Homo sapiens: one gene and its partners. The protein of the gene in region 1 interacts with the protein of each later gene in a pairwise test. Each region holds a gene or a part of one and is shown in the gene's direction. Other genes may lie near its edges.

Evidence for each region. Proteins that work in one complex are often made in the same cells at the same time.
Region 2: the proteins of PAK1 (region 1) and KLHL20 interact in binary tests that used the Homo sapiens proteins (3 or more experiments, as listed by UniProt).
Region 3: the proteins of PAK1 (region 1) and NOTCH1 interact in binary tests that used the Homo sapiens proteins (3 or more experiments, as listed by UniProt).
Region 4: the proteins of PAK1 (region 1) and TCP10L interact in binary tests that used the Homo sapiens proteins (3 or more experiments, as listed by UniProt).

The regions. Positions count from the first base shown.
Region 1 is NC_000011.10:77,330,778-77,334,957, reverse strand, and holds part of PAK1 (serine/threonine-protein kinase PAK 1), read left to right. Parts: intron 1-2,090; coding exon 2,091-2,228; intron 2,229-4,180. UniProt on the Homo sapiens protein: Protein kinase involved in intracellular signaling pathways downstream of integrins and receptor-type kinases that plays an important role in cytoskeleton dynamics, in cell adhesion, migration, proliferation, apoptosis, mitosis, and in vesicle-mediated transport processes.
Region 2 is NC_000001.11:173,783,747-173,787,192, forward strand, and holds the end of KLHL20 (kelch-like protein 20), read left to right. Parts: intron 1-1,416; coding exon 1,417-1,501; 3' UTR 1,502-2,946; downstream 2,947-3,446. UniProt on the Homo sapiens protein: Substrate-specific adapter of a BCR (BTB-CUL3-RBX1) E3 ubiquitin-protein ligase complex involved in interferon response and anterograde Golgi to endosome transport.
Region 3 is NC_000009.12:136,497,549-136,501,388, reverse strand, and holds part of NOTCH1 (neurogenic locus notch homolog protein 1 preproprotein), read left to right. Parts: intron 1-541; coding exon 542-837; intron 838-2,129; coding exon 2,130-2,277; intron 2,278-2,392; coding exon 2,393-2,490; intron 2,491-3,830; coding exon 3,831-3,840. UniProt on the Homo sapiens protein: Functions as a receptor for membrane-bound ligands Jagged-1 (JAG1), Jagged-2 (JAG2) and Delta-1 (DLL1) to regulate cell-fate determination.
Region 4 is NC_000021.9:32,579,024-32,582,863, reverse strand, and holds part of TCP10L (T-complex protein 10A homolog 1), read left to right. Parts: intron 1-448; coding exon 449-664; intron 665-3,840. Other genes in the region: CFAP298-TCP10L (uncharacterized protein LOC110091775), read left to right, coding at 449-664. UniProt on the Homo sapiens protein: May be involved in transcriptional regulation. Has in vitro transcription inhibition activity. Acts as a tumor suppressor in hepatocellular carcinoma (HCC) cells.

The DNA.
Region 1 (4,180 bases):
CCAATGTAGAGGTTCTTAATGACCTTAATAATCAGTTATCAGTAGAGAGATGGGGATGAAAGTCTAATTAAATTCATGAAAGTGGAAGAAGAGGACATTGAGATGGCATGTATAAACAGGTTTTTTTTTCTCTTAAAGGAATTTTGCTGGGAAGGGTAACAAAAATGGAGCACTATCTTAAAATGGAGTCAAGGGAGGGTTTTTCTAAAAGATGATGTCTGTGTGCTAATGGGAATGATTTAGTGGAGAGGAGGAAAATGGTCATGTACAAGAAGGAAGTGACAACCATAGAAGTGATATCCTTAAGTCGATGAGAGGGGTTCGATCAAGTACTGAAGTAAAGGACATTAGATTAGCATGGACAATTTATCCCTTGTAACAGAGCATCTCAACACAGGTGCAAATAGGTTGGTAATCTTGGTGTGGGCAAATGTGAAATTTATTCTGATTGCTTTTATTTTCTCATTTATTCCCACCTCCCATCCAGTGCAGGAATTCCCTGTGCACTGTTGCTGGTAGGTGGTCATCTACATGCTCATGTCATCCTTGAATATCTCTGATTATTGGAAATTGCTTCAGTGCACCAAACTGAAACTACCTTCTGTAGTTTCTATCCTTTGATCCCAGCTTTGCCTCTGACTCCACATACAACATACTCTTCCCTCCCTTAGAACGGCCTTGCAGATATTTGAAGATGATAATTGCTGGGATATGTTGGAAATAAGACAGAATGATCCTAGACATAGGCATATTTTTTTATTTTTTTATTTTTATTTTATTTTTTTTTTTGAGATGGAGTCTCACTCTGTCACCTAGGCTGGAGTGCAATGGTGTGATCTCAGCTCACCGCAACCTCCACCTCCCAGGTTCAAGCGATTCTCCTGCCTCAGCCTCCTGAGTAGCTGGGATTACAGGCACCTGCCACCATGCCCAGCTAAGTTTTGTATTTTTAGTAGAGACCACATTTCGCCATATTGGTCAGGCTGTTCTCGATGGTCTCGAACTCCTGACCTCAGGTGATCCACCCACCTCAGCCTCCCAAAGTGCTGGGATTACAGGAGTGAGCCACCACGCCCGGCCCTAGACATATCTTTTTATGTTTCCGGACCCTATCTGTGAAGTGAAGATGATAAGTCTTGCCCTATTACCCAGAGTTAATTGTGGCCATTAAATTAGACAGTGCTTATGTAAGTACTCTTTGAATTAAGTGCTGAGTGCTTGTAAAGATTTAGTCTTACTGTTTTTCTTTACCTTTCCCAGGAGACGCTTCATTTAGGGGACTAGGGTGGCAACAGTTTTCACTTACATTTAATATTCCTTTCCTGCTAGAAGAGATCAGTTCTTGGATGACTGAGGTGAAGGCACCAGGAATAATTTCTGCCAGCAGCTGGGCAGATGTTTAACTCAACAGGCTAAATGGATAATAAACCCTTCAGATGTGTAAGCAAGAATAATAATAAAGCCAGGCACAGTGACTCACGCCTGTAATCCCAGCACTTTGGGAGGTTGAGGCAGGAGGATCACTTGAGTCTAGGAGTTTGAGACCAGCCAGGCCAACATGGTAAAACCCCGTCTCTACTGAAAATACGAAAAGCAGTCGGGTGTAGTGGCTGGTGCCTGTAATCCCAGCTACTTGGGAGGCTGAGTCAGGAGAATTGCTTGAACCTGGGAGGTGGAGGTTGCAGTGAGCCAAGATCGTGCCACTGCACTCCAGCCTGGGCGACAGAGCAAGACTCCATCTCAAAAAAAAAAAAAAAAAAAAAGAAGAAGAAGAATAAACCCTTAGGTCTGTAACATATTTCATAAGTTTACAAAGTACTTTCAAATACACTATCTTATTTTATTTTTACAGACATGTGAGATGGGCATTATCATCATCCCTACTTTACAGACAGGGAAGTTGTACATAGTCCCATGGCCTTTAAATGTTCAACCTGATCCTTAGGTCATACTCTTTCCAGTATATATACACAGCTGCTACTTTGCATCCTAGAGCATAAAGCAGCTGACCATATTTCTAGAACTTGTATATGGGGAACAAGAGAGAGCCTCATTTGGAGCTCAAGGTGATTCACCATTTTTATTGCCAGGCCTTGTACCTCATTGCCACCAATGGGACCCCAGAACTTCAGAACCCAGAGAAGCTGTCAGCTATCTTCCGGGACTTTCTGAACCGCTGTCTCGAGATGGATGTGGAGAAGAGAGGTTCAGCTAAAGAGCTGCTACAGGTAACTGTCCTTATGCAGGGAAGCACCTAATTCAGGGAATCACTAAACCAGGCCTTTTTTACTTCATGTTTGTAAGGTACTGGATATTATAGAACTAGGCTTCTCTTCTACCACTTCCTACACTCACTCTGTTCCTACTGCCCTTTTATCCCTGGGCCTTTGCTCATTTATTTTCTTAGCCTTTCTCAGCCTGTTAAAACTCTACACGTTCTCCTAGGCTCAGTTTACAATCTATTTTCTGAGCACCTATTGAGCTTTGCTTGTAGCTTTTTTGCTTGCTTCCTTCCTTCCTTTCCTTTCTTCTTCCTTTCCCTTTCCTTCCCTTCCTTTCCCTTCCCTTCCCTTCCCTTCCCTTCCCTTCCTTTCCCTTCCCTTCCCTTTCCCCCCCCTCTTCCCTCTCCCCCTTCCTCTCACGCCCCACAGGGTCTCACTCTGTCACCCAGGCAGGAGTGTGCAATGGCGTGATTTTGTCTCACTGCAGTCTTCCTCTCCTGGGTTCACTCAAGTGATCTTCCCACCTCAGCCTCCCAGGTAGCTCAGACTACAGGTGCACGCCACCATACCTGGCTAGTTTTTTAAAAACTTTTTTGTAGAGACGGGGTTTTGCTATGTTGGCCGTGCATGGTCTCAAATTCCTGGGTTCAAGCGATCTGCGCACTTCGCTTTCCCAAAGTGCTGGGACTACAGGCATGGGCCACCATGACCAGCCTGCTTGTATCTTTCATTAGCACTTCCTTTGTTCTGTTTGAATTAGTCTGGCAGAGTTTGTTTGAGTCTTGTTGAGAAACGGGTCTCTGACACCCAAATCTTACACAACTTATATTTTGCTGGGATTAGCTCAAAGGATACATTTTTAGCAAAGGAACATAAGTTTATTTTATTTTATTTATGTTTTATTTTTCTTTCTTTTTTTTTAATTCTTTTTTTTTTACATTTTATTATTATTATACTTTTAAGTTTTAGGGTACATGTGCACAACGTGCAGGTTTGTTACATATGTATACATGTACCATGTTGGTGTGCTGTACCCATTAACTCGTCATTTAGCATTAGGTATATCTCTTAATGCTATCCCTCCACCCTCCCCTGACCCCACAACAGTCCCGGGTGTGTGATGTTCCCCTTCCTGTGTCCATGTGTTCTCATTGTTCATTTCCTACCTATGAGTGAGAACATGCAGTGTTTGGTTTTTTGTCCTTGCAATAGTTTGCTGAGAATGATGGTTTCCAGTTTCATCCATGTCCCTACAAAGGACATGAACTCATCATTTTTTATGGCTGCATAGTATTCCATGGTGTATATGTGCCACATTTTCTTAATCCAGTCTATCGTTGTTGGACATTTAGGTTGGTTCCAAGTCTTTGCTGTTGTGAATAGTGCCACTATAAACATACGTGTGCATGTGTCTTTACAGCAGCATGATTTATAATCCTTTGGGTATATACCCAGTAATGGGATGGCTGGGTCAAATGGTATTTCTAGTTCTAGATCCCTGAGGAATTGCCACACTGACTTCCACAATGGTTGAACTAGTTTACACTCCCACCAACAGTGTAAAAGTGTTCGTATTTCTCCACATCCTCTCCAGCACGTGTTGTTTCCTGACTTTTTAATGATCGCCATTCTAACTGGTGTGAGATGGTATCTCATTGTGGTTTTGATTTGCATTTCCCTGATGGCCAGTGATGATGAGCATTTTTTATGTGTTTTTTGGCTATGTAAATGTCTTCTTTTGAGAAGTGTCTGTTCATATCCTTCGCCCACTTTTTGATGGGGTTGTTTGTTTTTTTCTTGTAAATTTGTTTGAGTTCGTTGTAGATTCTGGATATTAGCCCTTTGTCAGATGAGTAGGTTGCAAAAATTTTCTCCCATCCTGTAGGTTGCCTGTTCACTCTGATGGTGGTTTCTTTTGCTGTGCAGAAGCTCTTTAGTTTAATTAGATCCCATTTGTC
Region 2 (3,446 bases), on another chromosome or scaffold:
AATCCCAGCTACTTGGGAGGCTGAGGCAGGAGAATCACTTGAACCTGGGGTCAGAGGTTGCAGTGAGCAGAGATTGGGCCATTGCACTGCAGCCTGGGTGACAGAGCAAGACTCCGTCTCAAAAAAAAAAAAAGATTTACTAAGTGCTCCGAGCCCTGGGGATACAAAACTGAACAACAACAACAAAAATTCCTGCCAAGCGCACGCCTGTAATCCCAGCTACTAGGGAGGCTGAGGCATGAGAATCTCTTGAACCCAGAAGGTGGAGGTTGCAGTGAGCCGAGATCACACCACTGCACTCTAGCCTGAGTGGAAGAGCAAGACTCCGTCTCAAAACAAAACAAAACAACAAAAAAGTTCCTTGCCCTGCTGGAGCTAACCAATTGTATTGAGGGAGACAAACAGTACCATACCAGTAGATGGAAGTGCTGTGGCAAATATCAAAGCAGGGGAGGGGGCTAGGGAGTACAGGGAGGGGAATCTGTTTTTAAAGGTGTTCAGGGAAGGCCTCATTGGAAAGGTAGCATTTTAGCAAAACCTAAATACGGTAAAGGATAGGTAATGGCAGCTTTGGGCCTCTCACTGGCAGGATATTTTCTTCCATATACAGCTTTCTATTTTTACTAGGAATTTTGATTAAGCATAATTTCTGAAGACAGCCAAATTTACTGTCACTTAATCACTATAATCTTATCTGAGGACTTGTTTCTTAGTAACTGTCACTAAATAGAATTAGTAATAGATGACAAAGTAATAGTCATGAAATTATTGAGGATCATCTGTTGAAAGATTAATAACTAAATATTTGCAGTTACATATCCAAGACTTAAAAACCAACTCTACCTCATAGCTGATAAGGGTCTAGTATTCTTCTCCATGGAAAGTCCTTAATTTTGAAGATGATCTTGTCACAAACTAGATGCTGACTTTACTCAAATCTGGTTTTGTTCTATAAAGGACTTGAAGAGGCTTACAGAGTACATATAAGACAAAGGGATAAAAATAAATAATTGAAGAATTTTAGGCAAAGGGAAAACATAGGTGGGACAATAATATAGCCAGGGGCAAAATTTTGAAAATGTAGAATATATAATTCTGTGTAACCGTTAGAAGTCAGTGAGGTATACAGTTGTAAAGTTCTGATGCCAAACGTGAATATGATGCTCTCTTATTCTTCACACAGCCTCCTATGAGTGAGAGCATGTCAGTCAATCTCTGAAACAGTCCTGCTACTCAACAGTGCTCAATTGCAGCTTCTAATCTTTAGAATGAAGACAATATTAGTGTGAAGCTGAAAATATTAGTTGTAATATAAAACATAGAAACGTGTTAATAACATCTTAGTCGTAGTTAATAACATCTTAGTTGTAACATATTTTCCAGTTAGAAAATATGATTATGTTTCTTTCTTTGCAGGTTATATGGCGGGATGAATTACCGTCGGCTAGGGGGTGGCGTAGGAGTTATTAAAATGACACATTGTGAATCCCATATTTGGTGAACACAGAGAAGACAGTCTTGTATATATTCCTCTGTATTCTGGGGAGCTTTGACCTTGGAGCTTTGTACAGCTTGAGAAAACATTAGAACAAATTTTATTATTTGCCGGTGCCTCAACAAATGGAAATACAATCCAATGAAAGTACTTCACCTGCAAGATGCACAATAATTTTCAACTCTGTGCAGAAGAATATTTATTTTTGGTTTTAATTTATCATGGTTTTTTGTTGTTTTCGTTTTGAACTTATCCTTCCTCCCACAAAAAAAGAAAAGAAGAAAAAATTCCAAGCAGCAAAACTTACTTTGTTTGTAAGGTATTCATTTAGGTTTGAAAATACTATTTAATAAGGGCAGAAGGGCTATATATGATTTGGCTATTATTTCTAGACACTCCATCCACATGATTCCACTAACAAGGATTACCAGGAATAAAGGTAGGTATGCAAAATGTATTAGCTACCCATTATTCTCGCACTAACCACCAGAAGACTTGAAAATCTTAAAAAAAAAAAACAAAAAAACAAGAAAAGGCAACATCTCATTTTAAATAGTACAATTCAGAAGGGATACTAAATCAATAAAAACCAGGACTCAGACACTACAGTTTTCATCAGTGTAATTTTATGTCTTGTTTCTTTCTATATGAACTTGTTTATTTAGTCTTTTTTTCATAATATTCTCATAGAGTTTCTGCTAGATCTAGAGCTCTGCTCAGTGCCTCTTATAAAAACAATATATAAGTCTCATATGCTGTCTTGAGAATCCAAGAGAATCACATGCAGCTCTGCAACAGTTTTTGCTCAAAAATGTTACTGACTAAAGCAACTGTCCTTCCTGTTTCCTTATTGCTACCAAGGACCAGCAGGGAGAAATGTCTTCTCCCAGCAGTGAATTCTGTTATGCAATTTATTCTTGATGCTCAGGCCTGGTTAAGCTGAGGCTTACCTTTAATAACAGCCTCCAAGGGAATGAATTATTCAGTTAATGTAATAGCACACATTAAAGAGTGTAAAATCAATTGAGGCATTTTATTAATATCTTGGTTCTTTTATACAAACAATGTATCATTATCTTCATTCTATAAGGTCATTGTTACTACTTCTCTCAAATTGCACTTTCTGGTAAAAAGTTAAAAATTTTTAAGGAAAAAATAATTTCAATGGTTAAAGTTTTTTTTCCTCATTGTATTCATAGACAAATTTTTTTCAATATATTTTGCAAGAAAAATCTTTGAATAAGACTAACTGCATTTAAAAGGAATAACCTCCTTCTCCCTTTCCCCAACTACAAAAATGTTTGGCAACTTTGTGTTTACATTTAAAGATCATTTGCACCTTTTTCAAGGAAAAAAAGTATTGAGTAAACAATTGTTTACATATATCATTTATGCTTTTTTCTAGCATGTATAACTTTTTTAAATAAAGGTAGTATTTACCATTAAAAAAATTTTAGCTAATGCTTTTTATCCTTGTACTTTTGTTATTTAATTTGGAATTTCTGTTTCTATATAATTTATTTTATCTGTATGTAAAGTTACAAGTGCTTTCAACTTGAATAAAAGGATTGCCAGCTAGAATTAATAGGAATTTTCATTATATATTTTTATATGTTATATTACCTAACCTATAAACTTATTTTCTAGGTAGGACTTAGACTCATACAATTTTGAGCTGGAAGGACTCTTTAACAATCATCTAGTCCAAACCCACTTATTACACTGATCCAAGTCTGAAAACCACAAAGTCTGCCTAAGAATAAATAGTCAATTAATGATAGAACCAACATTAGAAATCAGCTTCCTCAATTCCCAGTCCATTCCTCTTTCTATGCCACACTGCCACTATAGGTTTACCTGAAACTAAATATAATAAAAGACCTTAAGTATTTTAATTAAGTCTGGTATTAACATGTAAAAAGTATAAAAACTTTTATGAGATCCTCACTGT
Region 3 (3,840 bases), on another chromosome or scaffold:
GATCTCGGCTCCCTGCAACCTCCACCTCTCGGGTTCAAGCAATTCTCCTGCCTCAGCCTCCCCAGTAGCTGGGACTACAGGCGCCTGCCACCACACCTGGCTAATTTTTGTATTTTTAGCAGCGATGGGGTTTCACCATGTTGGCCAGGCTGGTCTCGAACTCCTGACCTCAGGTGATCCGCCCACCTCGGCCTCCCCCAGTGCTAGGATGACAGCGTGAGCCTCCGCATCCTGCTGAAGCATTAATTTTCTAACTGCATGCTTCTGGGGTCCTCTTTTTCCTGGGTGGATTTTGGGTGCCAGGTCTTGGGCAGGTCAGGAAGCAGTTGCCCGCCAGGAGTTTAAGCTGGATTCGGCTCTGTCCACTGAGCAGCCCAGGCGGACTTCAGCTGCCCCTTGGTGGCTGTGTGCACGGGGCCACCAAGTGCTGGGTGGTGCATCCACACCGTGGCCCCTTGAGCTTGGGGCTGCTGCCCCCCTCCCCCTGGGCTGCAGCTGGGGACCGGCCCTCCAGACTGAGCACCCGTCTCTGCCTCTGCAGATGGCTTCACCCCGCTCATGATCGCCTCCTGCAGCGGGGGCGGCCTGGAGACGGGCAACAGCGAGGAAGAGGAGGACGCGCCGGCCGTCATCTCCGACTTCATCTACCAGGGCGCCAGCCTGCACAACCAGACAGACCGCACGGGCGAGACCGCCTTGCACCTGGCCGCCCGCTACTCACGCTCTGATGCCGCCAAGCGCCTGCTGGAGGCCAGCGCAGATGCCAACATCCAGGACAACATGGGCCGCACCCCGCTGCATGCGGCTGTGTCTGCCGACGCACAAGGTGTCTTCCAGGTAGGCAGTGGCTGCCTGTGTGCCCACCTGCCCTCCTCAGGGCCGCCTGGTGGTCTGGGGCAGTGGCCAGGCTTACGTGGCCCTGGGAGCCTGACCCCGAGCACAGCTGAGTCCGGGACAACTGGTGCCTCCACCTGGGACCTTCGCAGTCAGCGAGGTGCGAGGGGGAGGGCGTCGGGCCCATCTGTGTTCTCCAGGGAAGTCAGGCAGAGGCGGGTCTGGCAGGAGGCCTGGGGGATCTGCTGAGTGAGGCAGCACCTCCCCACCCCCAGCAAAACAGGCTCCATCAGGGTTGTGGGCCTTGCTCAAGGTCCAGGTTCCACTGCTGCAGCCCCTCGCAGCCCCGCCCCTCCCTCAACCTTGGCTGCCGGCGTAGCCTGTGGCAGTGAGAAGCAGGGTTTAGAGGCTGCCGCTCGGTGCCTGCAGACCTAGGGCTCAGCTTGCCGGTGAGCTCGTGGCAAGAATGGATTTAGGGATTTGGATGCCTGGGTCTCCAGGGAGTGTCCCTGGCAGGGGCTGCCTTTGCAGTCACCCCTGCTGCGAGTCCCCAGGCTCCAGGCGGCCCTGGAGCAAGCAGGTTCAGATGGGCACAGCCCGGGGAGTTACCACAGAGCTTCTCATTTCCTGATTTCTTAGCTCAGGTGACACATTGTCATCTCGCAGAAATAAATGTAGGTGAGCAGAAAGAGCGTGGAAGGGAGCCCCGTGCGGGTTTGGTGTGTGCCTCTCTCAGCTGCCTTCTTTGCACAGATGTGGAAGTTCCCAGGTGCTTTGCAGGAATCAGGCCAAGTTGCCTTTTGCACCCGCCAGTGAGCAGGGGCCATTCCTCCTGCCAGATGCCAAGACCCGGCTGCATTACAAGGGCTGCCCACCCCCTCTCTGGGCAGAGCCGGACACTAGCTCGGCGGTTCTGAGACGGCTGTAGGGCCGTGAGCCCGGCTTCCTGAGTGCCAGCTGTAACCGCCGTTGGGGGCAGGGACTTGACCTCTCTGTTTTGTAGGTGGTCATGGCAGCTAGGACCACAGTGAGGATTAAATGAGGCCACACGTGGTCACGATGGATCCCACTGTCACCAAGGGGCCTGTCTGTGGGCAGCACAGCCCCTGCCCCCATCCGGGCCCCTCCTCAGGGGCAGCCCCATGGCGTTTCGTCTTGCCCGGCCGTGCCGATCTCAGGAGGGTCTCGTCTGTGTCCGGAAGACAGTGGGGCTTCCCGTCCAGGCGTTCGTTCTGGGCAGGAGGCATCGGTGTACGTCTGCCCAGCACCCGCCTGAGCCTCTCCCTGTTGCCCAGATCCTGATCCGGAACCGAGCCACAGACCTGGATGCCCGCATGCATGATGGCACGACGCCACTGATCCTGGCTGCCCGCCTGGCCGTGGAGGGCATGCTGGAGGACCTCATCAACTCACACGCCGACGTCAACGCCGTAGATGACCTGGGTGAGCCCACGGGGGCACGGCTGCTCTGTCGTGGGGCGGGACCGCCACAGGGACGGGTGGGACTGGGTTGCCTCCAGCTGGTCTCCAACCTACCCCATCTGCTTCTTTCACGCAGGCAAGTCCGCCCTGCACTGGGCCGCCGCCGTGAACAATGTGGATGCCGCAGTTGTGCTCCTGAAGAACGGGGCTAACAAAGATATGCAGAACAACAGGGTGAGCGCGAGGCTGGGATGCCAGGGGAGACGTGAGGGCTGAATCCACAGAGAAGTGAGGGCCAAACCCACGGGGCGCAGGGACACAAGGGCCTGACCCACAGGGTCTCGAGGGTCGCTGGGCCCGCATGTGGGCCCCACCCGCATGATGCGGGCACCTCGTTAGTGCTCCTGCCTTCCTTCAGCCCCCGTTTATGGAGCCCTTCCAAGTGCAGGTCCAGCTGTCAGGACACGGCGGCTCGCCCCTCAGACCCAGCCCTACCCTCCTGGGCGGCAGTCATGGCGGGGCACACAGCCTGGCGTGGGGAACGCTGCTGCTGCCACTGCTGTGTCACCGTCACCTGGACCTCACCTTCTGTCCCCAGCTGTCACCAGGCGGGGGTGGGGATGGGAATGTGGTGACGCAGGTGGTGCAGATTGAGCCAGAACACGCGTGGCGGCAGCTCCCTGCGGGGCGGGGCCTCTTGGTGTGTTCACCAAGGCCAAGGACCTCAAGGCTCAGAGGAAGAAGTCTCAGGACTATATCCAAGGGGAGCCACCCCCAGCCCTCATCCTGGCCCTGCAGCTCCTGGCCCTGCAGCTGCTGTTGGTTTCCCCTGGGTGCTCAGGGCACAGGTGCAGACACCCCCACCTCCCTGCCGCCAGAACCCCCACCCCCGCCCCCAACTCCTGCTGCCCCCTTGGCATGTCAGGCTCAGGCGTCTCTCCCTCCTGGGTGAGGGCACACAGCGGGCCTGGGCACCGGGGCATGTTGGCCCAGGCGCTCCCCAGTCCGTGGCAGCATGGCCCCACAGAGACTGGGCCCCAGAGGGCATCAAGGCCTGGGAAGCCCCTTCCCACTCCCACACAGCAGCCTCACCCAGACCTGTGACGTGTCCACCGCACAGAGGAGACCCCAGGAAGGAGCTTGGTGGCCACCAGGGTGGCTTGATGGCCGTCCAGATGACGAGCTCCCTCCCTGGTGCCCTCGCCGGTGCCTCTGAACCGCTCCAGGAATTTCCTTTTGTGCCTTATTGGGGGCAGGGAAGAGGGCCTGCAGTTGGTTAGATTTTCAGTGGGGTCTGTGACCCCCCCATAGAGGTGGAGCCCCGCTGATCTAGGGTAGAGGACTGCACAGATCCCCTCTCTGGGTGGGTTTCAGAAGATGTATCAAAGCCTTAACATTTAACAAGAGTCAGGCTAGGTGGTTGCAGGACGCTGGGGTGGGGTCCTGAGGAGCAGCCTGCCTGCCCCCACCCCGCGGAGGAGGTTGTACTGCTGCTTCCTCTGGTGATGGAACCTTGGGGAGGGTCCCCACGCCTGGCCTGGCCCCCCTCACCGGCCCCCGCCCTCATCCCCCAGGAGGAGACAC
Region 4 (3,840 bases), on another chromosome or scaffold:
CCCAGCACTTTGGGAGGCCGAGGCAGGTGGATTGCTTGAGCCCAGGAGTTTGAGACCAGTCTGGGCAACATGGTGAACCCCCATCCCGAGTAAAAATACAAAAATTAGCGAAGTATGGTGGCACATGCCTGTAGTCCCAGCTATTTGGGAGGTCGAGACAGGAGGATCGCTTGAGCTCATCAAGTTGAAGCTTCAGTGAGCTGAGATCATGCCACTGCACTCCAGCCTGAGTGACTGAGTGAGACCCTGAAAAAAGAAAAGAAAAGAAAGAAAGAAAGGAAAGAAAGAAGAAAGAAAAAGGCTGTGGTAGTCCTGTTTATCTCATCGGGTGTCTTTTATTCCAGAAATAGTGTTGGTCTTACATCAGAGAGGGCTTGAGTATTTTGCAGATAAATGTGCCCATTGTGACATCTGAGAGGTTTTTCTGGTGTTCTCTTCCCAATAACAGCCATTACAGCAGCAGATCATCAGACTCCACCAAGAGCTTGGGAGACAGAAGTCTCTGTGGGCTGATGTTCATGGAAAACTCCGGAGTCATATAGATGCTTTGAGGGAGCAGAACATGGAGCTCCGAGAAAAGCTGAGAGCTCTGCAGCTGCAGCGGTGGAAAGCCAGGAAGAAATCTGCAGCGTCCCCACACGCGGGGCAAGAATCGCACACTCTGGTACCAAAAGCGCATTTATGTTTTTGTACCGTTTGCGTTATGTAAAAATAGCGTCCCCATAAAGATGTGGGCTTTATTGCTGAATGACGCGGTATCACTCACGCTCCGGGTGGTGGGAGGGGTTGCTATCTTTCCATCAACTCCATTTCCCGTAAGTAATGATTAATAAGAACTGGATACATCAGGCCTCTCACCTGGCACTCCAGCAGACAGAAGCATTGCCGCCCCCAGGCCGTGTGTCTCAAGTCCAGAATTCTAAGACATCTCATGATGTCTCAGGACAACAGCAGCAAACCCTTACTGTGGACTTTACATGGGCTAGGTACGGAGCTTTACGGTCTTACTCTCTATGACGACCCTATGAAATGGATCCTATTACTAACCCCATCGTGGCCACGGGCTGGAGAACGTAGAGCTGGGATTTGAACCCAGGGTGACTCCAGAGCCAGCTCAGTAGCCTGGTGTCCTTCTGTTCATCCTCTAGGACAGCTGTGTAGAATGCAATAGAGACCTGTTGAAACGGGAAAAGTTCCCTTGTCCCCCTCGCAGGGTGTGCGATGGGGGTGTGGCTCGCTTCTTTGGTTCCCCACTGCTCAAACCTCTAGGGGAGTGTACAGACCGGCAGGCTATGGGGCTCTGACCCCACGGCAGTGTCTGGGGGTGAATGTTTCCAGCTGAAGCCCCAGAGGGTGTGTGTTACAGTGCGGGAGCTCTTTCAGTTTACCCCTCCGTAGGCAGCTTGTGTTTATCAGCTCAATTAGACCCTCTGCCTTATCACAAGGACAGAGGGCTTTCTGTATCCTGGGTTCTTGCCTTGGTGTACCTGAAAAATCAGATCACACATGGGCTTGGAGGATGGGTGCAAGGTTTTTTATTGAGTGGTGATACCTGTCAGCAGATGGGGGAGCCAGAAGGGAGATGGAGTGGGAAGGCAGTTTTCCCCTTGGGAGTTGGGCTGCCCAGTGACCGGGCTCTCCCCTGACCACCCCAAGCAAACTCCGTGTCATTCCGCCAGTCGATGGCCTGCTGGCGTCTGCTGTGTCTGCTGGTGTGCTCTTCTGCCGGTGTGTTCTTCTCGACATCCAGCCGCTTGGTCTCTGCCCGCTAGGGTCTTGGGGTTTTTATAGGCATAGGATGGGAGTGTGGCAGGCCACGGTGGTCTTGGGAAATGCAACATTTGGGCACAAAAGCAGAAATGCGTAGGTCCATGGGCACAGGCCCAGGGGTCGAGCCCTAGCCAGGGACCCCGTTCTTCTCCACCCAGGACTTTCCTGCCCCCATCCTGTATCACTAACCTGCTCTATCCCGAACGAAGAACCAGCATTCTCATGCTGAAGTAGTGGGTGCCTCCCAGCACCAGCCTGCCTCTACAGAACACTGAGCTTTCACGTTTGATCACACCGCTCAAAGAACCAGCCTAAGAGAGTGTGAATGTGGCCAGTGTTATCACTGCCTTGTCTGGGTTCTGTTTCCTGCATATGGATCTAAATAACTTGAATCATTAAAATTATACATACAGGTAACAACACATGAAACCACATGAACACCCTCCAAACGTAAGTGGGGATATTTCTTAGTGGATTAAGAAAAGTACTAACATTTCCTAGCTGCATTTATTGTGTGAACTTTTAAATCGGTACTTCCAGGACTTAGAATATTTCCGATACAGCACAGTGATTACAACACACACACACACACACACACACACACACACACACACACAGGCACCCACCGAATACATTCCAGAGGAGACTGCTCTGTGGTTTGTTCTCCAAGCACAGCAAAAACAGCCACAGCTGGGCGCGGTGGCTCACACCTGTAATCCCAGCACTTTGGGAGGCCGAGGCAGGTGGATCGTGAGGTCAGGAGATTGAGACCATCCTGGCTAACACGGTGAAACCCCGTCTCTACTAAAAATACAAAAACATTAGCCAGGTGTGGTGGCGGGTGCCTATAGTCCCAGCTACTCGGGAGGCTGAGGCTGGAGAATGGCCTGAATCAGGGAGGTGGAGCTTGCAGTGAGCCGAGATCGCGCCACTGCACTCCAGCCTGGGGGACAGAGCAAGACTCCGTCTGAAAAAAACAAAACAAACAAACAAAAAAAACTGCCACAAGTTCCTCTACAAGAAATTACGGGAAATCTTGGAAGTTATTCCCACTCTTCGGGAGCTCTGCGAGAGCTTTGTTTCCATGGAGATGGCTTCTGCTGCCTCAGAAAGAAAGTGAGTTTAGCCTCTCAGCACAGCAAAGCGCCGAGTCCTTCTGCGGAAGGAAGAGCAGAAGCTGGGCAGGCTGTTCCTCTGTCAGAGGAAGAGTGGGGGAAATTGCCACAAATACTGGCCGGGATTGTCCACCTTCTGTGGGGAGAACCCAAGAAGACTCACAGGGATTTTTTTCCCTACATATATTGTATGCCAGTTCCTAAAAAATAGTATCTACTGCCCCATTTGGGTCATTGTATAACAATTACCCTAAGAGTCAATGAAGTCTTATTCAGTCTTCACATGCCCTGCAGTTTTGATCATTCTCTTATTTTGAGATTAGAGCTTGGTGAATTTCCAAATATTTTTCCATTCTGTGCATTGCACTGGTCACCGTGGGGCTATTTATAAGAACAGGATGTACGCTCACAAGAGCATACCTGATTTGAAGAAACAGGATGGGATATGTGAATCCCACACTTTAAATATGCGAAGGTGTATCTGTGTGTAGTCGCCGTTTTAGGGACTGAATATCTAAAAGGCTGAGACTCGAGCACCCACAGAACGCGGGCATGGCTGTGTGGGTGAGCCACTCTGGATCTGATATTAAGGGTTCGTTCATAGCAACCCTCTCCCCTTCTCATTCCCTTCTCCTCCTCAGAGGGCAGAACGGTGAATAATTTAGCATTCCAGACCTAATATACCTCATCCCACCTGAAGGATCACCCTGTTCCAGGTCAGTCTGCTGATAACAGGGAAAGTTGGGAATTTGCATTTTGGATCTTAGACAAGTTGTAGAGACAACACTAGAAGTAGTATCACATTTTCTTCCTCCGTTAACACACTCCCGGTTGAAGACACAGGAGCCTAAAGGAAGATATGTTGGGGATTGTTTGTTCTGTAGCCTTTGGGATCCTGTGATCATTTTGAAACAAGGAACCACAATAAGAAACACAAAGCAAACATCGGCTCCAC